Homo sapiens: one gene and its partners. The protein of the gene in region 1 purifies or fractionates together with the protein of each later gene. This does not show direct contact. Each region holds a gene or a part of one and is shown on either strand. Other genes may lie near its edges. The genes, in order: GAB2, MARK2, LIMA1, YWHAE, FERMT2, STK38 and GSPT2.

What was found.
Region 2: the proteins of GAB2 (region 1) and MARK2 purify together in Homo sapiens (affinity purification with western blotting; one study listed by BioGRID). This does not show direct contact.
Region 3: the proteins of GAB2 (region 1) and LIMA1 purify together in Homo sapiens (affinity purification with mass spectrometry, with the first as the bait; one large-scale study listed by BioGRID). This does not show direct contact.
Region 4: the proteins of GAB2 (region 1) and YWHAE purify together in Homo sapiens (affinity purification with mass spectrometry; 4 studies listed by BioGRID and IntAct, with this or other methods). This does not show direct contact.
Region 5: the proteins of GAB2 (region 1) and FERMT2 purify together in Homo sapiens (co-immunoprecipitation; one large-scale study listed by IntAct). This does not show direct contact.
Region 6: the proteins of GAB2 (region 1) and STK38 purify together in Homo sapiens (affinity purification with mass spectrometry; one large-scale study listed by BioGRID and IntAct). This does not show direct contact.
Region 7: the proteins of GAB2 (region 1) and GSPT2 purify together in Homo sapiens (co-immunoprecipitation; one large-scale study listed by IntAct). This does not show direct contact.

What each region holds. Positions count from the first base shown.
Region 1 is NC_000011.10:78,218,821-78,222,320, reverse strand, and holds part of GAB2 (GRB2-associated-binding protein 2), read left to right. Parts: exon of another isoform or gene 1-125; coding exon 126-216; exon of another isoform or gene 217-541; coding exon 542-644; exon of another isoform or gene 645-1,532; intron 1,533-1,876; coding exon 1,877-2,002; intron 2,003-2,905; coding exon 2,906-3,049; 3' UTR 3,050-3,500. UniProt on the Homo sapiens protein: Adapter protein which acts downstream of several membrane receptors including cytokine, antigen, hormone, cell matrix and growth factor receptors to regulate multiple signaling pathways.
Region 2 is NC_000011.10:63,845,610-63,849,109, forward strand, and holds part of MARK2 (serine/threonine-protein kinase MARK2), read left to right. Parts: intron 1-3,500. UniProt on the Homo sapiens protein: Serine/threonine-protein kinase. Involved in cell polarity and microtubule dynamics regulation. Phosphorylates CRTC2/TORC2, DCX, HDAC7, KIF13B, MAP2, MAP4 and RAB11FIP2. Phosphorylates the microtubule-associated protein MAPT/TAU.
Region 3 is NC_000012.12:50,277,021-50,280,520, reverse strand, and holds part of LIMA1 (LIM domain and actin-binding protein 1), read left to right. Parts: intron 1-3,500. UniProt on the Homo sapiens protein: Actin-binding protein involved in actin cytoskeleton regulation and dynamics. Increases the number and size of actin stress fibers and inhibits membrane ruffling. Inhibits actin filament depolymerization.
Region 4 is NC_000017.11:1,355,223-1,358,722, reverse strand, and holds part of YWHAE (14-3-3 protein epsilon), read left to right. Parts: intron 1-3,500. UniProt on the Homo sapiens protein: Adapter protein implicated in the regulation of a large spectrum of both general and specialized signaling pathways. Binds to a large number of partners, usually by recognition of a phosphoserine or phosphothreonine motif.
Region 5 is NC_000014.9:52,941,051-52,944,550, forward strand, and holds part of FERMT2 (fermitin family homolog 2), read right to left. Parts: intron 1-3,500. UniProt on the Homo sapiens protein: Scaffolding protein that enhances integrin activation mediated by TLN1 and/or TLN2, but activates integrins only weakly by itself. Binds to membranes enriched in phosphoinositides.
Region 6 is NC_000006.12:36,526,980-36,530,479, reverse strand, and holds part of STK38 (serine/threonine-protein kinase 38), read left to right. Parts: intron 1-3,500. UniProt on the Homo sapiens protein: Serine/threonine-protein kinase that acts as a negative regulator of MAP3K1/2 signaling. Converts MAP3K2 from its phosphorylated form to its non-phosphorylated form and inhibits autophosphorylation of MAP3K2.
Region 7 is NC_000023.11:51,741,992-51,746,241, forward strand, and holds GSPT2 (eukaryotic peptide chain release factor GTP-binding subunit ERF3B), read left to right. Parts: upstream 1-1,450; 5' UTR 1,451-1,635; coding exon 1,636-3,522; 3' UTR 3,523-4,241; downstream 4,242-4,250. UniProt on the Homo sapiens protein: GTPase component of the eRF1-eRF3-GTP ternary complex, a ternary complex that mediates translation termination in response to the termination codons UAA, UAG and UGA.

The DNA of each region.
Region 1 (3,500 bases):
TTCCCTGTGTGAAACTGGAATGACTTTGCAGGCCTTTATAAACATGCTCATGTGTTATATATAAGGTGTGTATGTGTAGCATTATCATTACTGGCTGATTACCAGACTTTCTTTTCCTGCTCCAGCAAAGCCAACACCACTTGACCTGAGGAACAACACCGTCATCGATGAACTCCCCTTCAAGTCACCTATCACCAAGTCTTGGTCTAGGGCCAAGTAAGTGCGTATGTGTGGGGGTGGGAGCTTGGAGTCGGGCCATTAGGGAAAATGAGTGATGTGGTAGCTGGCCTGTGGGCCGGGACAGCTGGATTCTGATGCTAACGCTATCATTAGCTGATCATGTCTCGATGTCTTGTGGCTTGGTTTCCTCAGCTGTAAAAGAGAATAATTATACCTGCCCTATATCAGATCTTAATCTGATGGAGTGTGCAGCTCTAATGGCTGAGGTCTGGGTGTGTGAGGGTCAGGGCCCAGCTGGAGGCTAGAAACATGGCAGCAGCCATGCAGCTTCCCCAGTGTTAACTCTTCCTTCCCACAACAGCCACACCTTCAACTCCAGCTCCTCCCAGTACTGCCGCCCCATCTCCACCCAGAGCATCACCAGCACAGACTCAGGAGACAGCGAAGAGAACTATGTCCCTATGGTGAGTCCTTCGGGCTTCGCTGGAATGACGCCTTTCAAGTCCCCTGGGACCCACCCCTCAGTTCCCCACTTCCCAGCTTAGCTAACTCACCTCAGCCCAGGGACTCCTTGTATTATTCATGATTTAGTCTCCTGCTACAAACCCTTCTTGAGCACCTGTTTATCAAGCAGTAGGAGTTGTCATCAGATGTAAGGAAGACATGAGACCTGTCCCAACGAAGTCATGGTCTTCAAGAGCAGGGGCCTGCCTCTCATGACAGTGACATGGGTGGCATGATCTGTGCCCTTGGATAGGCAGTGCTGGAGGTATCTCCTCAGTGGTGGAGGTATCTCCTCAGTGGTGAGAGGCATACGTGCACATAACTCACTTTGGTGAGGCCATAATAGAGCTATCAACACAGGCAGAGGAGGATATTTCTTCCCTGAGATTTCCATTAAGGGCGTAACTGCCCAGCACCTGGTAGTCACTGCATAGATAGTGAAAGAATGAATTAACCAACCAGTAAAGCAGCCAACAAACAGAACACAGGACTATCACCTTCTCATTAGAATAAGACTTCCAGAAAGTTCTAGAGGAGGTGGTGCTCTGCTAGAGCACGAGCCTGGATGGACAGGATCCTAGAGCGTGTCATCTGAAGAAATGCGGGCTTGTGCAGCCTGGAGATGAAGCCACCCTCTTCAGATCTTGGAGGAGCTAGGCGGGGGAGCAAGCTGCTTTGGGGTGACTACCCCACTCTAGGCCACAGGTGGGAGTTTCACAGGGGCTGATTTGGTGCGACAGAAGAAAACTTTCCAGTGCATAAAGGAAATGTGCTCCTTTCTTAAGCGCCAGCAAGCAAAGGCTGGATGTCTCAGGAGAGCCACTGTTGATGAGACTTGGCCTGATGTGCTAGAAAGGAGGCAGTGTGGTACAGGGGTTAGCACAGGTTTGGAAGTCAGAAAACAGACCTGATTCCCATCACTCAACAGCTGTGCAGCCACAGGCAAAGTCACTTCTCTGAAAGTAAAGTGAACCACAGTTTCATCTTTGCTTTAAACAGTATCAACAGTAATCATACCTACCTTACAGGATTGTCATGAGGATTAAAATGAAAACATGAAAAGTCCTTAGCATGGTGCATGTGTCAGAGTAGGGCTCAGGGAAACAGTGTTCTTACTCCCAGAGGTGTTTTTCTGGGTGGTGGGTTAGTCTGTTTTCTGCAGTCACTCACAGTTTTTTCCTCCTCGTGACAGCAAAACCCAGTGTCTGCATCTCCCGTTCCCAGTGGCACGAACAGTCCTGCCCCTAAGAAGAGCACCGGCAGCGTTGATTATCTGGCCCTGGACTTCCAGCCGAGCTCCCCAAGCCCCCACCGCAAGGTGCCTGGAGTAGAGTTGGGGGGGCAGTAAGAGCTCTCAGGGTCCCGGAGGCAGAGATCATGGAGGCCAGGGTGCCTTCAACACTGAACAGCAGCACTCAGCCTCCCTCCTGCTCCAGTACCCAGCTTTTATGATGCATCTTTAGTCATAGAGCTTTCATCTAGGTCTAAAGACTCCTATTCCTGCTCTCAGAGCACAGTACCCTCAGTCAGAGAACCTCATCAGTCAGCCCATCCCCCGTGTTGTAGAGATGGGCAAATGAGTGCACAGAGATCTGATTGTCCTAAGGTTACAAAGTGAATCAGCAACAGATCCAGGAATGAGGATACTGCCTCCTGGTCCTGGGCTCTCGAGTGGGTCCAGAGCCCTGCCGTCGATACATCAGCCTTCAGAAGGGACTTCCAGGCCTGGGAAAGCCTCCCCAGGAGGCATCCTTATAGCTAAGCAGTCTAGACAGAAGGGTGCAGAGCTGTGCCTCAGCATGGTTCCCCTTCACAGGGTGGCAGTGAGCACAGCACGTAAAGTCCTGTGGCTGATGTTTGTTTGCACCTAGCAAATTCCTTCCCCTGGATGAGCGACCTGACAGAGATGGGTGGAGGCAGAGATGAAGGCCTGGACCCATCCACCAGGGCCAAGGAAGGGCCTGGGTCCTCCCAGAAGCCGGGAAGTAAGAAGGGCTGGCAGGTGCTGCTACATCCTGCAGGAGGGATGATGAGTTTGGAGTCTGAGCTTTAAAGCCCACATTCAGAAAGAGAAGCCAGGCTCCTGAGGCTGGTCAGTGGCAGGCAGAGGCCATGCTCTTCTCCCCTTCAGACAGCTCAGGAAGATCCCGTGCCCACCTTCTTCCTCCCCACCTAACTGGTAACTCACAGCTACTCCCTCTTTCCCACTCTGTCCCCTCAGCCATCTACTTCATCCGTCACCTCTGATGAGAAGGTGGACTACGTTCAGGTGGACAAGGAGAAGACCCAGGCCCTGCAGAACACCATGCAGGAGTGGACAGACGTGCGGCAGTCCTCAGAGCCTTCCAAGGGTGCCAAGCTGTGATGAGAGGGCCACCGCAGAGCCCAGGAGGCAGCATCTCCAGAGCTGGCCCTTCCCATCTCCCCTCTCCCCTCTCCCGTTCTTCCTCCCATCCACCTCCTCTCTACTCTGCCAGTCTCAGCCTTCAAAGCACTTGACATCAGGGACCCTGAACCCTTCCCCTGGGAGGTGAGGGCCTGATCAAGGCACCTCCTCTGCCCACTCGGGGCCCAGCTGTGATTTTTATCAGTAATGGCCATGCCTCCACCCACCTTAGTTAGGAGCTACTTCCAAAAAGCATCCTTCAGCCTCTTCCTGTCCTTTAGACCTGACTCTCTACCAGATGTTTGGAGGGAAGGGCTGGGGCTCTGAGCCAGATTCCACACCTCACGTTCAGTCACAGCCCTCAGCTATCTTCCCTCCGGCCACTGGGCTACCTCTCCTTCAGTCCCAGAAGACAAGTCTCACCAACCCA
Region 2 (3,500 bases), about 14 Mb from region 1:
TCCCACTGCTGGAGAGCCAGGCTATCCCCAGGTTAACCCTGAAAGTGCTAACTCCTGAGCAGAATGTTACTGCCACCCGCCCCCTTCCTTTTTGTTATAGGCCATTGAAGGTCATTGCTCGTCTTTTTTTTTGAGACAGTCTTGCTCTGGTCACCCAGGCTGGAGTGCAGTGGCAGGATCTCAGCTCACTGCAACCTCCACCTACTGGGTTCAAGCGATTCTCATGCCTCAGTCTTCCAAATAACCAGGATTACAGGTGCGCACCTCCATGCCTGGCCACTTTTTGTATTTTTAGTAGAGATAGGGTTTCACCATGTTGGCCAGGCTGGTCTTGAACTCCTGGACTCAAGTGATCCGCCTGCCGTGGCCTCTCAAAGTACTGGGATTACAGGAGTGAGCCACCGCGCCCGGCATCATTGCTTATCTTTTAGACTGAGATAGTACAGCTGATTCTAAACAGCACCCAGAGAGAATCTGGCCTCTTGATTTCCAGTTGTGTCTCAGAGGAGGAGGCATCCCAGTTCCTCCTCTTGCCCTCTAGACATCTCCTCCTCTGATAAGTATAAATAGGCTAGATCCCTTTATCTTCATATCTGTTTTTGTCTGGAATGTTTCAAGTTTCTCAAGCTAGGTGTGGTGGCTCATATCTGTAATCCCAGCACTTCGGGAGGCCACGGCAGGAGGATCACTTGAGCCCAGGAGTTCAAGACCAGCCTGAGCAACATAGTGAGACCTCATTTCTACAAAAAAAAAATTTTTTTTTTGAGACGGAGTCTTGCTCTGTTGCCCAGGCTGGAGTGCAGTGGTGCGATCTCAGCTCACTGCAACCTCCGCCTCCCGGATTCAAGTGATTCTCCTGTCTCAGCCTCTTGAATAGCTGAGATTACAGGTGTACGCCACTGTACCCCGCTAATTTTTGTATTTTTAGTAGAGATGGGGTTTCACCATGTTGGTCAGGCTGGCCTTGAACTCATGACCTCGTGATCTGCCTCAGCCTCCCAAAGTGCTAGGATTATAGGCATGAGTCACCCCGCCTGGCCAAAAAAAATTTTTTTTTTTTTTTTGAGACGTTGTCTTGCCCTGTCGCCCAGGCTGGAGTGCAGTGGCACGATCTCGGCTCACTGCAAGGTCCGCCTCCCGGATTCACGCCATTCTCCTGCCTCAGCCTCCCGAGTAGCTGGGACTACAGGTGCCCGCCACCACACCCGGCTAATTTTTTTGTATTTTCAGTAGAGACGGGGTTTCACCTTGTTAGCCAGGATGGTCTCGATCTTCTGACCTCGTGATCCACCCACCTCGGCCTCCCAAAGTGCTGGGATTACAGGCGGGAGCCACCGCGCCCAGCCCAAAAAAATTTTTAAAAAGTTACCTGGGTGTGGTAGCACATGCGTGTATCCCACCTACTCAGAAGGCTGAGATGTGAGGATCACTTGAGCCTGGGAAGTTGAGGCTGCAGTGAGCTGTGATCATGCCACTGCATTCCAGCCTGGGCAACAGAGTGAGACCCCATCTCAAGATAAATAAGGTTTGTCAGTCCCTGTGGTGGTTCTTTCCGCAGATGTCTGTCTTTGGGTTGGCACTTATTTCCCCCTACTTGCAGTTATTCCTTACATTTCTCATTAGAAAATGGCAAAAAGGGCAAAAGTAAATTCATTTCCTTTTTACACCAAATCATTAATTTTAGGCTTATAAAACTAAATGAACAGAAGATTTGGTAGGAGAGGAGGGGAGATGGACACTGATACTGGTGGCTAGGTGATCCTGAGGGACAACTGGTGCCTGGCAGAAAGAGAGGAGGGCTGTGTTCAGTGACTGGCTCCCAGCCACCTTTTTGGCCTTTTTCTTTTTAACATGAGGAAGGCGGAGCAGACCAGGGGCTTCTCTGTAGAACCAGTCAAGCTGGTTTTGGGCAGCCTTGGCCTATTTTCTTGTGTGCTCTTTGGGAAGTTGGCAATACAAAGGTCTGCCTCCTTTGGGGCTGTGTTCGTTGAGGCGAAAGTTTGGAAGACAACTATCTGTCAACAACCCCCTTCTCCCCAAACACTGAATGGGTCTCTGAGCTGGTCCTTCACTCCAGGGAGGAGGCTTTCTCTCCACCCTATGCTGAACCTGAAGGCAGCTTTGCTTTATACACCTTTCACTGAAAGCTCTAAGACATTAACTCCTTTTTTGGACTCCCTTCCCAATTCACAACTTGGTGAAAGACCCTCAGCCTAGCCAGGAGGAAGGGACTGGGTCTGCCTTTGGCTCCTCATTTATGGGTCTGGGAGGGGATCAGGACTCCTTACTGCTATGATCTGGCTGCTAAATTCAGTGACATCCCAGGCCTTTTTTCGTCCACGCAATGGGACTGTCTGTCCAGGCCTGCTGGGAAAGAAAAGAGAGAAAAAATAGTTTTTGCTCTTTGGCAGCTTACAGGGACTTCAGCCATAGGAAACAACCTGTAGGAAAGGTGGGAGCTTCCGGTCACCATGTGTGCTGACACTTCCTGCAATAGCACTAGGAAGTCTTTCTCAGGGAGCAAGGCCAGCCAGGTAGGATTATTTCCCAGTCTCCCAGCTAAGCAGGAAATGCCAAAATATGAACGTTTAGTAATTAGTGAGTGTAACTACCTGCTGACAGAGCTCCAGCCTAGACCTTGTCCTTGGGGGCTGGTTGCCCCTGTTGATACTACAGTGAGCTACTCATTGCTTCTGATTACCATTTCAGTATGAGTTTTGCTTTGGTTTCTGATATCCCATGTGCGGCTGCCTTTTTTCTCCACCTTCTTTTTGTTGTGTCTTTTTGTTTTTTTGAGACGGAGTCTTGCTCTGTTGCCCAGGCTGGAGTACAGTGGCACAATCTCAGCTCACTGCAACCTCCGCTTCCCAGGTTCAAGCAATTCTGCCTTAGCCTCCCAAGTAGCTGGTACTACAGGCATGTGCCAGCACACCCGGCTAATTTTTTTTTTTTTTTTTTTGAGACAGGGTCTCGCTCTGTCGCCCAGGCTGGAGTGCAGTGGCGCGATCTCAGCTCACTGCAAGCTCTGCCTCCCGGGTTCACACCATTCTCCTGCCTCAGCCTCCCGAGTAGCTGGGACTTCAGGCGCCCACCACCATGCCCAGCTAATTTTTTGTACTTTTTTTTTTTTTAAAGTAGAGATGAGGTTTCACCATGTTAGCCAGGATGGTCTCAATCTCCTGACCTCATGATCCACCCACCTCGGCCTCCCAAAGTGCTGGGATTACAGGCGTGAGCCACCGTGCCCGGCTGTAACACCTGGCTAATTTTTGTATTTTTAGTAGAGATGGGATTTCACCATGTTGGCCAGGATGGTCTCGATCTCCTGACCTCGTGATCCGCCCGCCTCGGCTTCCCAAAGTGCTGAGATTGCAGGCGTGAGCCACCGCGCCTGACCTTGTTGGTGTTTTTAAGAGACAGGGTCTCACCCTGTCACCCAGGCTAGTATGCAGTGGTGTGATCATAGCCCACTGCGGCCTCAAATAGCTCCTAGGCTCAAG
Region 3 (3,500 bases), on another chromosome or scaffold:
TACCATGAAAATTTTACATTCTTTTGATGTTCTTTTAAATAATTTCTTAATACTACTACCCTGGGCCGGGCGCGGTGGCTCACGCCTGTAATCCCAGCACTTTGGGAGGCCGAGGCGGGAGGATCACGAGGTCAGGAGATCGAGACCATCCTAGCTAACATGGTGAAACCCAGTCTCTACTAAAAATACAAAAACAAAATTAGCCGGGCGTGGTGGCAGGCGCCTGTAGTCCTAGCTACTCGGGAGGCTGAGGCGGGAGAATGGCGTGAACCCGGGAGGCGGAGCTTGCAGTGAGCGGAGATCGCGCCACTGCACTCCAGCCTGCGTGACAGAGTGAGACTCCGTCTCAAAAAAAAAAAAAAAAAAAAAAAAAAAATACTACTACCCTGAAACTAAGAACTTTCATCTTTAGGGGAAAAAAAGATGCAACTTTTTTGTACTTCTGATAACAAGTGTGGATCTATTTTCCCCCTTAATTATTCTGTAACAGAGTTTATGATATGGAAAACTTTACAGTCCTTCAAATATGTTTTGTCTTGCACAAAGTATTGCCATTTTTGTTTCATTACCCATAAATTAGTCCCAATATCCGCTTTACTTAGTTTTAGATTTCCACAATCTTTTTTTTCTCCATAAACTGAAATTCAAGCTAATGCCCCGGGACTTCTTTTATTTCATAGTCAGTTTTACTAAACAGGTAACATTTGCTCAGCTTTGGCGTCTGAGCAAAAATTTGGCTTCCAGCACTACAGGAAAGCTGTCTGTCCATGCATAGTATCCAGTGGTTTCTGTCTAACGGTCCTTACCCCTTGGCAATAACTGACCAAGTGAACAACTTGTCTAGTTCTTCCTTTCATTTGCTTTTCTTGACATGACTACTATCTGGTTCTCCATTTTCTAATCTAACCACTTACTCCCATGATCCATTAACTCAGTCTTTTTGCCCCTTAAATGCCGGGTTCACCATAGCCCTGCTCAGCTTCCTATTCTCACTATACTTTCTCCCTTTATAATCTGATTTCTTTCCATGACTTCCACTATCACCTCCATGTAAGTGGCCTGAAAATTTATCTTTTTAAAAAACTTCTTTCATATTGTATATATAATTGTTTTATTTTCATATATGCCAACACATTTAAAAATAAAAATTATAGATATTTATATTATTATAAAATAAAAATTATATATGTTTATTATAGAAAATGTGGAAAAAACAGGCCGGGTGTGATGGCTCATGCCTGTAATCCCAGCACTTTGGGAGGCTGAGGCGGGTGATCACTTGAGGTCAGGAGTTCGAGACCAGCCTGGCCAACATAGTGAAACCCCATCTCTACTAAAAATACAAAAATTAGCTGGGCATGGTGGCGCATGCCTGTAGTCCCAGCTACTAAGGAGGCTGAAGCAGGAGAATCCCTTGAACCCAGGAGGCAGAGGTTGCAGAGAGCCAAGCTCATGCCACTGCACTCCAGCCTGGGTGACAAAGCAAGACTCCATATCAAAAAAAAAAAAAGAAAAGAAAAGAAAAAAAGAAAATGTGGAAAAAACAAATTATAAAGAAGACAAAATAACCCATATTCCATAATCTGTTCCAGAGAGATCTATCATTTGATATATTTCCTTTCAGTGGTTTTGTTTTCTTTGATATACACACACTCACATAAACACAAAGGTAATTGAACTCATACTGTTGCAGTAGATATAGTTTTGTGTCTGCTTTTTTTGCTTTATATTATTTTTCATAGCATCAAAAATTTTTGAAAACATTTAAATGGATATTTAATCTCCATTGTAATCTATTTAATAATTTATTATATTGAGGTTGCATAATTTATTTGTGTTTTGGTTTTACATTAAATGAAAACAATTGAGAACAAATTTATGCATAAATCTTTGTGCAAATGACTCATTATTTCCTTAGGTTAGATTCCCAGAGGTTGAATTACCAGGTCAAGGAGTGTGAAAATTTAAAAATACTAAACCTGCTCCCAAATTGCTTTTTGTAAAGATTAGACTAATTAACATTCTCAACTGCAGTGATTGTGAGTGCCCATCTTAGTGCGGCCTTGGTAACATTGAATATTATTATTATGATGATTTTTGAGATGGAGTCTCGCTCTGTCGCCCAGGCTGGAGTGCAGTGGCACGATCTCTGCTCACTGCAAGCTCCACGTCCCGGGTTCATGCCATTCTCCTGCCTCAGACTCCTGAGTAGCTGGGACTACAGGTGCCCGCCACCACACCTGGCTATTTTTTTTTTTATTTTTAGTAGAGATGGGGTTTCACCGTGTTAGCCAGGATGGTCTCAATCTCCTGACCTTGTGATCCGCCCACCTCGGCCTCCCAAAGTGCTGGGATTACAGGCATGAGCCACCTCGCCCAGCCCGTCTGGCTAATTTTTGTGTTTTTTAGTAGAGACAGGGTTTCACCCTGTTGATCAGGCTGACCTCAAGCCCCTGACCTCAGGAGATCTGCCCACCTCGGCCTCCCAAAGTGCTGGGATTACAGCATGAGCCACCGCGCCCGGCCCGAATATTATTTTTTAATCTTTACTAATTTGATAGGCAGAAATGAATTAATTTGTATTTCTTTGCTAGTGAGAGAGAACATTTTTCATACATTCATTTCTGTTTCTTCTGTGAATTATGTCTGGGTTAATCCCACTCCCATTTTTATTTGGGCGTTAACATTTTAATTATGTTGGTTTTTTGTTTGGTATTCTTTTATTTGGAGCGTTTTGTGGGGGAAGCACAGGCTTTTATTAGACCAAATAGAGTGAATGGAGTGACAAAGTGGAAAGTATACAGAAGTTGGAATTGTGGTGTTATAAATGCCCATTGTTTTGAGGGGCCAGAGCTTGTGATCAATGAAGCAGTACTGCAGAATGGAAAGGGTGCTATTTGAGAGTCAGGATTCCCAACTTAATGTTGTCATCAACCAATCAGGTGATCTTGGACAAGTCATTGATTCATTGACTCAGAGCCTCATCTGTAAAATGAGAGGGTTGGGCTTTTGATCCCCAAGACTGGACAACCTCTGTGCTGAAAGGATGCCTTTGGAGCTACTACTGTTCACTAGACATTCTGGAATTACTTTCTGTCTCATCTCTAACCTTTCACCTAATTTTAGATATATAGAGCCTGAGGAAAGACTGGATGCAGTAAAGGCAGTGTCCACCGGAGTAGCAAGGGGAGCCTGGGGACAGCTTAATTTGTTTGTGCCCTTTAACTTTCAGGAAAATAGAAGTATAAAAAAAAAATTGAATGGGGTTCTTGCTGTGGGGGTTGGGGGAAGAAAAGAAAAAAAAAGAAGTCAAAAAGATTGGTATTTTTTTAGGCACTCCCATAGACTGACACTTGGAAACTGGTAAGATAAAATCACAGAAGCCCTGCTGACCTGTGCCACAAAACTCGATTATCTACAATGTATGTGAAAAATGTCTCATTTTGTGACTAGAGGGTGTACGTCTCCAAGGCAAGTTATTTAACAACTTCTTCTACTTC
Region 4 (3,500 bases), on another chromosome or scaffold:
AAGTAGCTGGGATTACAGGCATGTGCCACCATGCTTGGCTAATTTTTGGGGGCATTTTTAGTAGAGACGAGGTTTCACTATCTTGGTTAGGCTGGTCTCAAACTCCTGACCTCAGCCTCCCTCCCAAAGTGCTGGGATTACAGGCATGAGCCACTGCGCCCGGCCAATTTTTAAATTTTTTTTGGGCTGCGTGCAGTGGCTCACGCCTGTAATCCCAGCACTTTGGGAGGCCGAGGAGGGCAGATCACGAGGTCAGGAGATCGAGACCATCGTGGCTAACGTGGTGAAACCCCGTCTCTACTAAAAATACAAAAAATCAGCCGGGCGTGGTGGCGGGCGCCTGTAGTCCCAGCTACTCGGGAGGCTGAGGCAGGAGAATGGCGTGAACCTGGGAGGCGGAACTTGCAGTGAGCCAAGATCACGCCACTGCACTCCAGCCTGGGCGACAGAGCGAGACTCCGTCTCAAAAAAAAAATTTTTTTTTGTTGTTTTGTTTTGTAGAGGCAGGGTCTGGCTGTGTTGCCGAAGCTGGTCTTGAAATCCTGGCCTCAAGTAATCCTCTTGCCTTAGCCTCCCAAAATGCTGAGAATACAGGCCTGAGCCACTGCACCAGGCCCTTTTGCCCATTTTTGAATTCATGTTTTTTTCGTTTGTTAAGTGTTGAGAGTTCATTATTCCAGATAGTAACCTCTTAGCAAGTAAATGGTTTGTGAGTATTTTCTCCTCTTCTGTAGGTTGGCATTTTGTTGTTGTTGTTGTTTTTTGCTATTGTCTTTTTCTTTTTTTTTTTCCCCCGAGAGGAGAGTCTCGCTGTGTTTCCCAGGCTGGAGTGCAGTGGTGCAATCTCAGCTCACTGCAACCTCTGCCTCCCGGTTTCAAGCGATTCTCCTGCTTCAGCCTCCCAGGTAGCTGGGATTACAGACGCCCGCCACCATACCCAGCTAATTTTTGTATTTTTATGTAGAGATGGGTTTTCACAGTGTTGGCCAGGCTGGTCTTGGACACCTCACCTTAAGTGATCCAGCCACCTCGGCCTCCCAAAGTGCCGAGATTACAGGCGTGAGCCACTGCACCCAGCCTATTTTAAATTTTTACAGTAAATATTGCAGTAGCAAAATGGTTTTTTTGCTTTTTTTTTTTATTTTGACGGAGTCTCACTCTGCTGCTGTGGCTGGAGTACAGTGGCGTGATCTCAGCTCACTGAAAGCTCAGCCTCCTGGGTTCAGGCGATTCTCTCGCCTCAGCCTCCCAAGTAGCTGGTACTACAGGCACCCGCCACCACGCCCGGTTAATTTTTTGTATTTTTTTTTTTTTTTTTTTGAGACGGAGTCTCGCTATGTCCCCCAGGCTGGAGTGCAGTAGCGCGATCTCGGCTCACTGCAAGCTCTGCCTCCCGGGTTCACGCCATTCTCCTGCCTCAGCCTCCCGAGTAGCTGGGACTACAGGCGCCCGCCACCACGCCCGGCTAATTTTTGGTATTTTTAGTAGAGATGGGGTTTCACCGTGTTAGCCAGGATGGTCTCGATCTCCTGACCTCGTGATCCACCCGCCTCGGCCTCCCAAAGTGCTGGGATTACAGGTGTGAGCCACCGCGCCCGGCCTATTTTTTGTATTTTTAATAGAGATGGGGTTTCCCTGTGTTAGCCAGGATGGTCTCGATCTCCTGACCTCGTGATCTGCCCTCCTCGGCCTCCCAAAGTGCTGGGATTACAGGCGTGAGCCACCGCGCCCGGCCCCTTTTGGTTTTTGTATGTGTTTTTTTTTGGTTTGTTTGAGGACAACTGCTTAAGCAAAGTAGGGTTTTTAAGTGAAAGCCTTTCAAAGTTTGAGGAAAGGGGATTAACTGATACATTGGAACTTTAATGTTGACTATTATAGGCATGCTTCACTGCGCTTGACTGAATTTTTTTTTTTTTTTGCATTTTTAGTAGAGACAGGTTTTCACCATCTTGGTCAGGCTGGTCTCGAACTCCTGACCTCAGGTGATCCACCTGCCTCAGCCTCCCAGAGTGCTGGGATTACAGGCGTGAGCCACTGCGCCCAGCCAATGTAAAAACATTCTAAATGGCTAGTTGAGTTTGTCCAGATAGGGATCGTAACTGAAGAAGCTGTGGCTATTTAGCTAATACTGGTGGTTGCACCTTTCCTTGTCAGACTCCAGTCTAGCTGTCCCACGTGTAGCTCCAGTTTAAAGTCACTCGCATGCCTTTGCTCATGCTTCTGCTTAAACCTGAAGTGTGTTTTGTTTTCTCCTTATCCATTGAGATTAGTTCAAATTTGACTTTCCCTTTAATTGCTCCTCCTTCTGGGTCCCTGAAATACTTTATTTGGAATAGCACTTCATTCTTCTTCTTCTTTTGTTTTTGTGCTCTCTTGCCCAGGCTGGAGTGCATTGGCACAGTTTCACCTCACTGCAACCTCCGCCTCCCAGGTTCAAGGGATTCTTCTGCCTCAGCCTCCTGAGTAGCTGGGATTACAGGCATACGCCACCATGCCCGGCTAATTTTGTGTGTGTGTGTGTGTGTGTGTGTGTGTGTGTGTGTGTGTGTGTTTTTAGACGGAGTCTTGCTCTGTTGCCCAGGCTGGACTGCAGTGGCGTGATCTCGGCTCACTGCAGGCTCCGCCTCCTGGGTTCACACCATTCTCCTGCCTCATCCTCCCAAGTAGCTGGGACTACAGGCACCTGCCACTGCTCCCGGCTAATTTTTTTGTATTTTTAGTAGAGACGGGGTTTCACTGTGTTAGCCAGGATGGTCTCGATCTCCTAACCACGTGATCCGCCCGCTTCTGCCTCCCAAAGTGCTGGGATTACAGGCTTGAGCCACTGCACCCGGCCTAATTTTTTGTGTTTTTAATAGGTTTTGCCATGGTGGCCCGGCTGGTCTTGAACTCCTGGCCTCAAGTGATCTGCGCGCACGCATCAGCCACCCAAAGTGTGCTGATTACAGGCATGAGCCACCACAGCCAGCCTCCTCCTTGTAAAATAGTTATGTATTTGTCTACCCTCCATTTCTAAATTTTTAAGTTGATGTGGACTTAGATTATGTCTCTTTTTTTTCTATTGGTATATCGTATCGTTTGTTGGACATAGTACACAGTACTCAGTAAGTGTGGATTTTCTTTTAAAACTGTAAATGGCTTACATAATCACATTTCCATGGCGTCTGTGTTGCCTTTTATTTTCTTTGCTTCCCTGCCTCCATTAACGTGAAATTAAATTTTTTTAAACTTTGAGGTATTGTCCAAGATTTTCTTTTTGCATTAATACTTTGTTAAATATCTCAACCTTGTAATCCAGCACTTTGGGAGGCTGAGGCGGGCACATCACGAGGTCAGAAGATCAAGACCATCCTGGCTAACACGGTGAAACCCTGCCTCTGCTAAAAATATAAAAACAAATCAGCCGGGTGTGGTGGCGGGCGCCTGTAGTCCCGGCTACTCGGGAGGCTGAGGCAGGATAATGGTGTGAACCCAGGAGGCGGAGCTTGCATTTAGCCTAC
Region 5 (3,500 bases), on another chromosome or scaffold:
CCTAAAACTGGGAGTAACCCAAATGCCCTTCAATTGCTAAATGGACAAACTGTGAAATAATCCATTCAATGGACTACTACTCAGTGATAAAAAACTATTGATACAAACACATGAACGAAGCTAACATGTATTATGCTAAGTGAAAGAAACCAGATTCAAAGAGCTAGAACTGAATGGTTCCATTTGCAGGCCATTCTAGAAAAGGCAAATTATCACTGGTTTTTAGGATCTGGGTTTGAGGCGATGAGACGGTTACAAAGGAAACTTTTGGGAGTACTGTAAAAGTTTTCTATCTTGACTGTGGTAGTTTTACATGTCAAAACTCAGAATATTATACTAAGAAGGATAAATTTTACTATATGTCAATCAGACCTCAATGAGCCTGACACTAAGAAAAAAAATTAACAGGAAAAACAATTATATAGTAATTATGCAACTAATTTGTTAAAGAATGAATTATAACGAATATGAATTTGTAACCACAAACCCAAGTGCAGAAGTCACACTTCTTAATTACAAAATAAAAGAATTATTTAAAAATACACTTTCAGATGTATTTGTTTACTTCTCACTGGGCATATATACCAATTTTAAATGTTCCATGGCATAAGCATTAATTTGTCAGTAAAATAATTATTTAAATAGGAATACTGCATACATTAGCTTTTTTCTGAAACTACTTTCATTAGTTTCTAAATAGGCCCAATGTTTTCATGTGCCTTTGCTATAAATGAACTAAAAACACTGCTCTTATAGAATATATTAAGTAGAGAATTAATTTACTACTGATGCTTTCATGGTTTTAGATTTTTCAAATACCTGGAATACCATCATCCACTTATTGGTCCCCTGCATTTCAGAAATCTTATTAAAATGGTACTTAAATAGCTCTCTTACACTGCAGAGGCAGGTGTGTGTTTGGAAGTTGGCGGGAAAGTAAAATGACAGCTATTTTTTCTTGTTGTTTAGAGGGTGGGAACAGAAAGCAATCCTAAACTAAGCTTTTTTTGAGGAGTGCAATTCCCCACCAGTAAAGCTGGAACTTATTAAATATACTAGATTATATTTTAACCTACTTTTCCTTTTTTTCCTTCCTACTTTCATATACTCAGAGACTCAATGCCACAGAGAAGTATCCACTCTCATTTGCATAACACAAATAGTTTATATAAAGTATATATACATGTAGTATCAATATATATGTATTATCTCATTTAATTCTCACCAAAACCTGTGAGAAAATGTTTTTCTTTTTCTTTTTTTTTTTTTTGAGATGGAGTCTTGCTCTGTCACCCAGGCTGGAGTGCAGTGGCGCGATCCCGGCTCACTGCAAGCTCCCCCTTCTGGGTTCACACCATTCTCCAGCCTCAGCCTCCCGAGTAGCTGCAACTACAGGCGCCCACCACCACGCCCAGCTAATTTTTTGTATTTTCAGTAGAGACGGGGTTTCATCGTGTTAGCCAGGATGGTCTTGATCTCCTGACCTCGTGAGCCACCTGCCTCGGCCTCCCAAAGTGCTAGGATTACAGGCGTGAGCCACCCCGCCCGCCCCAAGAAAATTTTTTTCAATTTCTATTTTATAGAAGTCAAAACCCACTCAGGTTGGATTCATTGTCCAAAGGTCATACTAACCAGTAAAGTAGCAGACAGAGCCAGAAGTTGAATCCAGATCTTCTGACACACTAGGCAACCTGTTATTTCTTAATAATCTGTGCCTCCATCAGCACCTACTACAGTCTGAGAACAGCTGACATTATGGGAAACCTACATCCAATGATGTCTAAAACTATTATTAACAGCTTATTTAATAGTAAGCTAAGAAGTAAACTAAATTTTAAAAATAAAGTATGTGAAAAAGAACCTATAAAAATATCACTCTTGGCCAGGCGTGGTGGCTGATGCCTGTAATCCCAGCACCTTGGGAGGCCGAGGTGGGCGGATCGCCTAAGGTCAGGAGTTCAAGACCAGCCTCGCCAACATGGTGAAATCCCATCTCTATTAAAAATACAAAAATTAGCGTGGTGGCGGGTGCCTGTAATCCCAGCTACTTGGGAGGCTGAGGCAGGAGAATCACTTGAACTTGGGAGGCGGAGGTTGCAGTGGACTGAAATCGTGCCACTGCACTCCAGCCTGGGTGACAAGAGCAAAACTCTGTCTCAAAAGAAAAAAAAATCACTCTGAAGTGAAATTTGCACTGATACTAAGAACCTTATTTTAAAAAGGTTAAACAATGTCTTAAAAGACCAAGGCTGAGGAACTGTTCTACAGGGTGGCCATAAAGTTTACAAACAGATACTATCATTTTACATGTATCTTAATGTAATGTCAATAAGCCATTTATTATATAATCTCCTGTAGCTCCACACTTGGTGGCTGTTCTGTATATCAAAGGAGATTAAGAGGCCCTTTCAACTAAATGCGAAATGAGATTCTGGATGGGAAAAAAACAAAGGCCATTATTGGGACAACTGGCAAATTTTGAAAATGGATGCATATTAGATGACAGAAGTGAATCAATGTTGAATTTCCTGAATGTGATCACTATACTGTAATTATGCAAGAGAAGTTTCTTGTTCTTAGGTGATACATATTTAAATATTTAGGAATCAAAGGTTATGAGTAAGTCTGAAACTTCATCCAACTGCTCCCCAACATGTGTATGTTTGTGTGTATAGAAAATTCAAATGGCAAAATACTAACTGGTGTCTAGATGAAGATTACGCAGTGTTCACTCAATTACTCTTGAACTTAGATGTTTGAAACTTTTAAAAATTAAGAGCCAAAGATAACAGGTAAAATTTTACATATTTTCTTTCCATTCTCTTCAATAGCGAGCGATTAGACATTTCCAACAAGGCCTTTTATAAGTAATTGAATAAACATATTTTTAGCATCTCTATAAATAAGTTAACTCTAGTTGGAAACAAACAGTTTTTTACTTTAAAAAACTGGGTATAAAACATAGCAGCAAAACAAAAACAAAAGGCAGCAAATAGCACATACTCTAAGGAATAGCTCATACTTTATTAGCTGTCACAGGATTACAGTAAAACTTGAGTACTGTCCTCCACTTTTAAAGAACTTAAAATTTGCTAAGAAACTGATACAATTTAATTCACTTCCTATGGATCATGAACAGTGTTTTAAACACTGAGTAAACTTACTATCAGATTTAACCAAAACTTAATTCACTTTAATAAGATTTTAACATTGTTTCCTACTCCACCCCCAAGATTTAAAAAAATTTCTTATAATGTTAATGTATTTCACTATGAATGCAATGAGGATGCATCATGTAGGCATTAATTTCCATGAATTCAGTTGTGAGCCCTCAAGGGGAAAAACTAAGGATTTCAACTGCATAGGCACCATTCCACCAAATAAGCACACACCTTCCCCAGGGAGCACTAAGCCAGGGTATAAGGGAGCTGTCCAGTTACGTATGCCTCTTTCCCAGTGTGCATCTTGCCAAGCTCTAATCCTAGTGTTTAAAGTATTTT
Region 6 (3,500 bases), on another chromosome or scaffold:
GGCAGAAGAATCACTTGTACCCGGGAGGCAGAGGTTGCAGTGAGCCGAGATAGTACCACTGCACTTCAGCCTGGGTGACAGAGTAAGACTCTTGTCTCAAAAAAAAAAGTATTTATTAGACATTTTCTGAATTTTAATCATGGAGATGTAATCACAGCCCTTTCCCCTCCCCCTCCGCTCCCCTCTTCTCTTCCTGACAGAATCTCGATCTGTCGCTCCTCTTCTCTTCTCTTTTCTTTCTGACAGAATCTCGCTCTGTCACCCAGGCTGGAGTGCAGTGGCACGATCTCAGCTCACTGCAACCTCTGCCTCCCAGGTTCCAGAGATTTTCCTGCCTCAGCCTCCTGAGTAGCTGGGATTACAGGCACGTGCCACCACGCCCGGCTAATTTTTGTATTTTTAGTAGAGATGGGGTTTCACCATGTTGGCCAGGCTGGTGTCCAACTCCTGGCCTCAGGCGGTGTGCGAGCCTCAGCCTCCCAAAGTGCTGGGATTACGGGTGTGAGCCACCATGCCTGGCCCTATTTCTGTTAAATACACTATTTTTCCTGGTTTTCAGTGTCTCACCAAAATACTGTCTGTTTTCAATTAGGGTGGAATAGCCCTATTCTCTCATCCCTGCTACCTCCAAATCAGGCTATGCCAAGAGGGGACCCTAAATTAGATTAGAAAAGGGGGCTAATTGTAAGTAGTAGTCATGAATGTGTCTGCACATTGCTATACATTCTGACTTTTTAAAATTTAGCAGCATACATTTAGAAAGTAGCTGTGTACAAAGCACTATTCTTAGTGGACATAGGGAATTCAGATATAGTCCCTGCCTTCAGAAGGACTTACCACTCTCTCATATAAGAAATGAACACACACGCAACTAAATGGAACACATGGAAGGCATCACTGGGGTGAGGCTGGATATGGCCTCTAAGTGTGAAAGTGGCTTCGTCTCTCTCCTAGGGTTCTGGTTTTGAACATTGGAATTGAAGGGAAGAGTGGCTCCACCAAGGGCTGGAGTGTTAGTTAACCTGGCACTGCTACCAGAGAACATGCCTGTGTGGAGAGTCCTGCTATTCTTTTTCATTATGAACAATTTTAAACATAGGTGGAATAATATAGTGACCCCGTTTCAATATATTCATCCCTCAGATTTAATAATTTTAGGGCTTTGGTACATTTTCTTCATCTATCCCATTTTGTTTTTTCTTGCTATTGTGTTTTAAGGTAAATTCCAAACATCTGTCATTTTAATCCTACATACTGTCAAGTATGCATTTCCAAAAATATGGCCATTTTCTTGCATAATGCAAATGCCACCATGAATCTAACCAAGTTAACAGTAATTCCTTTGATGTCATCTCACAGAGGATGTCATTTTTAAGTCTCATTTCAGGCTGTCCTTGCTGTTTTTGGTGTCCTCAAGGTCTTTGTGGACCTGGTCCTAATTGTTATCATGGATAGGCTTTTTTTTTCTGGATACTTTCTCTAATGAAATAATCTGATTGTGTTCAAGGAGTTAACTTCACTCTCAGGCAGGTATTCTGCAACCAATTTAATTACACTTCAGTAAACCTGTGGAAAACCTCTTAGTTTGTATTTAGGTTTAAAATATAATTAGAAGGAGCCACTTTTGTGACACAGTGGATAGTGCATTGGACTGGTAGCCCATTCTGATGTAGTCATTCAAAAACGTGTAGTCAGGACGTATGATGGTGTTTAGTACTCAAGGCACAAAAAGAGCTGACCACAGCTGTGTTCTTAGAGCTTTTGCCTAGCATGTTATGCTTTGACTTTTCTTGTTCTTCTCTGCTTCAACTACCTAACCACTTGCAATGGAATTAATTTACACTCCCGAAACTACTAAGAGTACAGCCTTTTCTCTCTAATACATGTGCACGCATAGATGCACATGTATCCCAAAATATTCTGGGAACTGGGAGAACTGTTCGTGTTCCTCTCTCTGTTTCCTGTCTTGATTAGTGGCATCATATCCCTCTAGACAGGAAATTCTAAGGTTTTTCTCTTGACTCCTATTGCCAGTTGGTCATATTTGCAATAGCTCTATTCACTTCATTCTAGTTTTCCTGCCCTAGTTCCAGATCTTTACTGTACATCTGAATCATTACAATAACTCTCAACTAGCCTCTTTCTCAGTTGCTTTCCCTGCCAGTCCATCAGATCCTCATTACTGCTGGTTACCATTCTAAAATAGAAATCTTATCACATCACTCCTTTGCACACAAGCCTCTTTTAGCACTCAGTTGTCTACAGAATGAGATCCAACCTTCTTGGTGTGGCATTTGTAGTGCTGTGTGCGTCAGCCACAATGGACTACATGCTATTTCTGCAGCATACTGTACACTCTTTTTTTTTTTTTGAGATGGAGTCTCGCTCTGTTACCGAGGCTAGAGTGCAGTGGTGCGATCTCGGCTCACTGCAAGCTCCGCCTCCTGGGTTCACAACATTCTCCTGCCTCAGCCTCCCGAGTAGCTGGGACTACAGGCGCCGGCCACTACACCTGGCTAATTTTTTTTTTTTTTTTGTATTTTTAGTAGAGATGGGGTTTCTCTGTGTTAGCCAGGATGGTCTCGATCTCCTGACCTCGTGATCTGCCTGCCTCAGCCTCTCAAAGTGCTGGGATTACAGGCGTGAGCCACCGCACCTGGCCAGCATACTGTAGTCTTATCCTTCTTTGCTCTGTTTGTACACATTGCCTGTTTATCTGGAATGCTGATGAGTGGTGGAGGAGAGATTCTAGCCCATGTGCTTTCATTTATTGTGCTGAATAAATGAAGGTTCTGTGGAATTGGTTGTAAGGAAGTTTTACTTGCTTCTTTTAGTTTTATGAGACTATAGATCAAAAACATTACTGCATGTACTTTCTAAAGTTCAGTATTCCAAAAGTTTGATGTCTGAAGGTTTTTTTTTTCTTTGAGGCAGAGTCTCACTCCGACATCTGAGCTGGAGTGCACTGGTGTGCTCTCGCCTCACTGCAACCTCTGCCTCCCAGGTTCAAGTGATTCTTGTGCCTCAGCCCCTCCCAAGTAACTGGGATTACAGGCACCTGTCACTATGCCCAGCTAATTTTTATATACATATATGTGTGTGTGTGTGTGTGTACTAATATATATACATATATTACATATATGTGTGTGTATATATATGTGTGTATATATACGTATATACATATGTGTATATGTATATATGTATACATGTGTACATATATACATATGTATACATGTGTATATACATATAAATATATATATATATACATATATTTTTTTTTTTTTTTTTGAGACGGAGTCTTGCTCTGTCACCCAGGCTGGCATGCAGTGGCGTGATCTTGACTCACTGCAACCTCTGCCTCCCAGGTTCAGGCAATTCTTCTGCTTCAGCCTCCTGAGTAGCTGGGACTACAGGCGCTCGCCACCACGCCTAGCTGATTTTTGTATTTTTAGTAGAGACAGGGTTTTACTATGTTGGCCAGGCTGGTTTCGAACTCCTGA
Region 7 (4,250 bases), on another chromosome or scaffold:
CATGGTGAAACCCTGTCTCTACTAAAAATATATATTAAGAAAAATTAGCTGAGCTTGGTGGCGGACGCCTGTAATCCCAGCTACTCAGGAAGCTGAGGCAGGAGAATTGCTTGAACCCAGGAGGCAGAAGTTGCAGTGAGCTGAGATCATGCCACTGCACTCCAGCCTGGGCAACAAAAGTGAAACTTTGTCTCAAAATAAAAAAATAAATCCATCTATGTGACACCATCTTGTACTAAGCAGATTGTTTGGACTGAATAGTCTTTCTAGGTATGTCACAAAACCTGAATTCATAAAAGCAAAAGGTGACAGATTTGAGTACATGAAGACTAAAAACAGATTCAGAGAATAAGTTTGTATTTTCTATGTCAGTTTGCACTAAATTAATTTACAAACAAGGTCGCTGAGGCTTTGACTCAACTGTTAACACTTTCTGAGAGTGAGATTCTTTTGATTAGGGTCTTAAGGTCTTTGTTCATCTCAGAAGTCTTAATTGGTTTAATTAGGCTGACACCTACAGCCCTGTCTCATTACCATAAACTGTAGAGGGGTTCAACATGACACTGATTGTTTCTTAGAGCAAAGCCAGTGCAGTGAGTAGGATTCCAGGCCCCCCGGAATGAAGCAGGAAAACCCGAGGCCTGTGGATGCAGGATGTACTAGGGAGGTGCTGGGGAGTAGTGCAGATAAACCCAGAATTCAGTTGGTTGGTAAAACAAGAGTGATCTGAGTCCTGTGCTTGTCTACGTGATCCACCATTGAATGGCAGGCCAGCCATTGTGCAGGCATCTGCATATGAAGTGACTGGAAGCTTCACTGGAACAAGGATCTCCTTGGAAATTCTCTCCCCTCAGACAGCCAGGGTGCTTAACATGAAAAGAAGTTGTAACCCTATCCTTAAACTATAGAAGCCATCAGCAGAAGTTACAGGCTTATGGGGGCCCACTGGAAAGGGAAAATCAAAAGGCCTGTGGATTTCAAATTAATGAGTGATCTTAAGTTGCATTTCCTAAGTTCGGCTACAGACTCATATATTTCATGAGTCCCTCCCTACCCATTCCTTGCCTCTCCCTTCAGTTGCTGGGTTTCTGAATTTCTGTATAGTTAACCCTTATCTTGCCTCCCATTTGTTCAATAGAAATGATCACTTTTACTTGAATCTTTTGGTAGAATTGTATACCATGTGTTCCTGTCTAGGTTTAATCATCAGATTGTGGTCAAATTGCTCTGCCAGACTGTGTGAACAAAAAAGTGAATGGAAATTTTCGTTTTAAAAAATAATACTTTTGGACTTAGCCCGTGGCTAAGAAGAAGTAAGGAAGCCAAGCGTACGGATAGCAGCGAGGGGTCAATCCACGCCCGGCGTTGGGTCGGGGGTGGAGGAGTCGGAAGTGGTTGGGGTTTGGGGGAGGAGATCCGCTCACACACAAGAGGAGAGTGTTGAGCCGCCATATCTGCTGCTGCCGCCGCAGTTGCGAATGCAGCATCGGCGCTTAGCTGCCTCCGCGGTGCAGCTAAGGTTCGTGTCGCTACCCCTTGGCCCTTCGCTCTTGCTGCCTTAACCCCGCCGGCGGAGCCCGCTCTTCTGGCCTGTTGAGCCCGCTCCCTCACTGCCACACAGCAAGTTCCGAGACCATGGATTCGGGCAGCAGCAGCAGCGACTCGGCGCCCGATTGCTGGGACCAGGTGGACATGGAATCCCCGGGGTCGGCCCCGAGCGGGGATGGAGTCTCCTCTGCGGTGGCCGAGGCCCAGCGCGAGCCCCTCAGCTCGGCTTTCAGCCGTAAGCTCAACGTCAACGCCAAGCCCTTCGTGCCTAACGTACACGCCGCGGAGTTCGTGCCGTCCTTCCTGCGGGGCCCGACTCAGCCGCCCACCCTCCCGGCCGGCTCCGGCAGCAACGATGAAACCTGCACCGGCGCGGGATACCCTCAAGGTAAAAGGATGGGACGGGGGGCACCTGTGGAACCTTCCCGAGAGGAACCGTTAGTGTCGCTTGAAGGTTCCAATTCAGCCGTTACCATGGAACTTTCAGAACCTGTTGTAGAAAATGGAGAGGTGGAAATGGCCCTAGAAGAATCATGGGAGCACAGTAAAGAAGTAAGTGAAGCCGAGCCTGGGGGTGGTTCCTCGGGAGATTCAGGGCCCCCAGAAGAAAGTGGCCAGGAAATGATGGAGGAAAAAGAGGAAATAAGAAAATCCAAATCTGTGATCGTACCCTCAGGTGCACCTAAGAAAGAACACGTAAATGTAGTATTCATTGGCCATGTAGACGCTGGCAAGTCAACCATCGGAGGACAGATAATGTTTTTGACTGGAATGGTTGACAAAAGAACACTGGAGAAATATGAAAGAGAAGCTAAGGAAAAAAACAGAGAAACCTGGTATTTGTCCTGGGCCTTAGATACAAATCAGGAGGAACGAGACAAGGGTAAAACAGTCGAAGTGGGTCGTGCCTATTTTGAAACAGAAAGGAAACATTTCACAATTTTAGATGCCCCTGGCCACAAGAGTTTTGTCCCAAATATGATTGGTGGTGCTTCTCAAGCTGATTTGGCTGTGCTGGTCATCTCTGCCAGGAAAGGAGAGTTTGAAACTGGATTTGAAAAAGGTGGACAGACAAGAGAACATGCGATGTTGGCAAAAACGGCAGGGGTAAAACATTTAATAGTGCTTATTAATAAGATGGATGATCCCACAGTAAATTGGAGCATCGAGAGATATGAAGAATGTAAAGAAAAACTGGTGCCCTTTTTGAAAAAAGTAGGCTTCAGTCCAAAAAAGGACATTCACTTTATGCCCTGCTCAGGACTGACCGGAGCAAATATTAAAGAGCAGTCAGATTTCTGCCCTTGGTACACTGGATTACCATTTATTCCGTATTTGGATAACTTGCCAAACTTCAACAGATCAATTGATGGACCAATAAGACTGCCAATTGTGGATAAGTACAAAGATATGGGCACTGTGGTCCTGGGAAAGCTGGAATCCGGGTCCATTTTTAAAGGCCAGCAGCTCGTGATGATGCCAAACAAGCACAATGTAGAAGTTCTTGGAATACTTTCTGATGATACTGAAACTGATTTTGTAGCCCCAGGTGAAAACCTCAAAATCAGACTGAAGGGAATTGAAGAAGAAGAGATTCTTCCAGGATTCATACTTTGTGATCCTAGTAACCTCTGCCATTCTGGACGCACGTTTGATGTTCAGATAGTGATTATTGAGCACAAATCCATCATCTGCCCAGGTTATAATGCGGTGCTGCACATTCATACTTGTATTGAGGAAGTTGAGATAACAGCGTTAATCTCCTTGGTAGACAAAAAATCAGGAGAAAAAAGTAAGACACGACCCCGCTTCGTGAAACAAGATCAAGTATGCATTGCTCGTTTAAGGACAGCAGGAACCATCTGCCTCGAGACGTTCAAAGATTTTCCTCAGATGGGTCGTTTTACTTTAAGAGATGAGGGTAAGACCATTGCAATTGGAAAAGTTCTGAAATTGGTCCCAGAGAAGGACTAAGCAATTTTCTTGATGCCTCTGCAAGATACTGTGAGGAGAATTGACAGCAAAAGTTCACCACCTACTCTTATTTACTGCCCATTGATTGACTTTTCTTCATATTTTGCAAAGAGAAATTTCACAGCAAAAATTCATGTTTTGTCAGCTTTCTCATGTTGAGATCTGTTATGTCACTGATGAATTTACCCTCAAGTTTCCTTCCTCTGTACCACTCTGCTTCCTTGGACAATATCAGTAATAGCTTTGTAAGTGATGTGGACGTAATTGCCTACAGTAATGAAAAATTAATGTACTTTAATTTTTCATTTTCTTTTAGGATATTTAGACCACCCTTGTTCCACGCAAACCAGAGTGTGTCAGTGTTTGTGTGTGTGTTAAAATGATAACTAACATGTGAATAAAATACTCCATTTGAAACTCTTCGGTTATTTGAAATGCTTTTGAATAATGTTTAAATGTCATTATGTAATGCTATTCAATTAGCTTTATTACTTTCTCAAATAGTTGAATATGTTCTATCACTTAAAAACTTAAAAACTCTTCACCACTTACTGTTTTAAGTGAGGAATTTACAAACAATGCATAAGTGTGTATTAAAGGAATAATTTTAATTTTGAGAAAAAAACGTATGTTAAGGCTCTTCCCAGTGGGCTTTGTTTTCTCTGTCCAAGTCCAGTCAATAAAGGAGCTCTTCTGCTTCCCCACTTGTGATTTGAAAATGAAAGGCT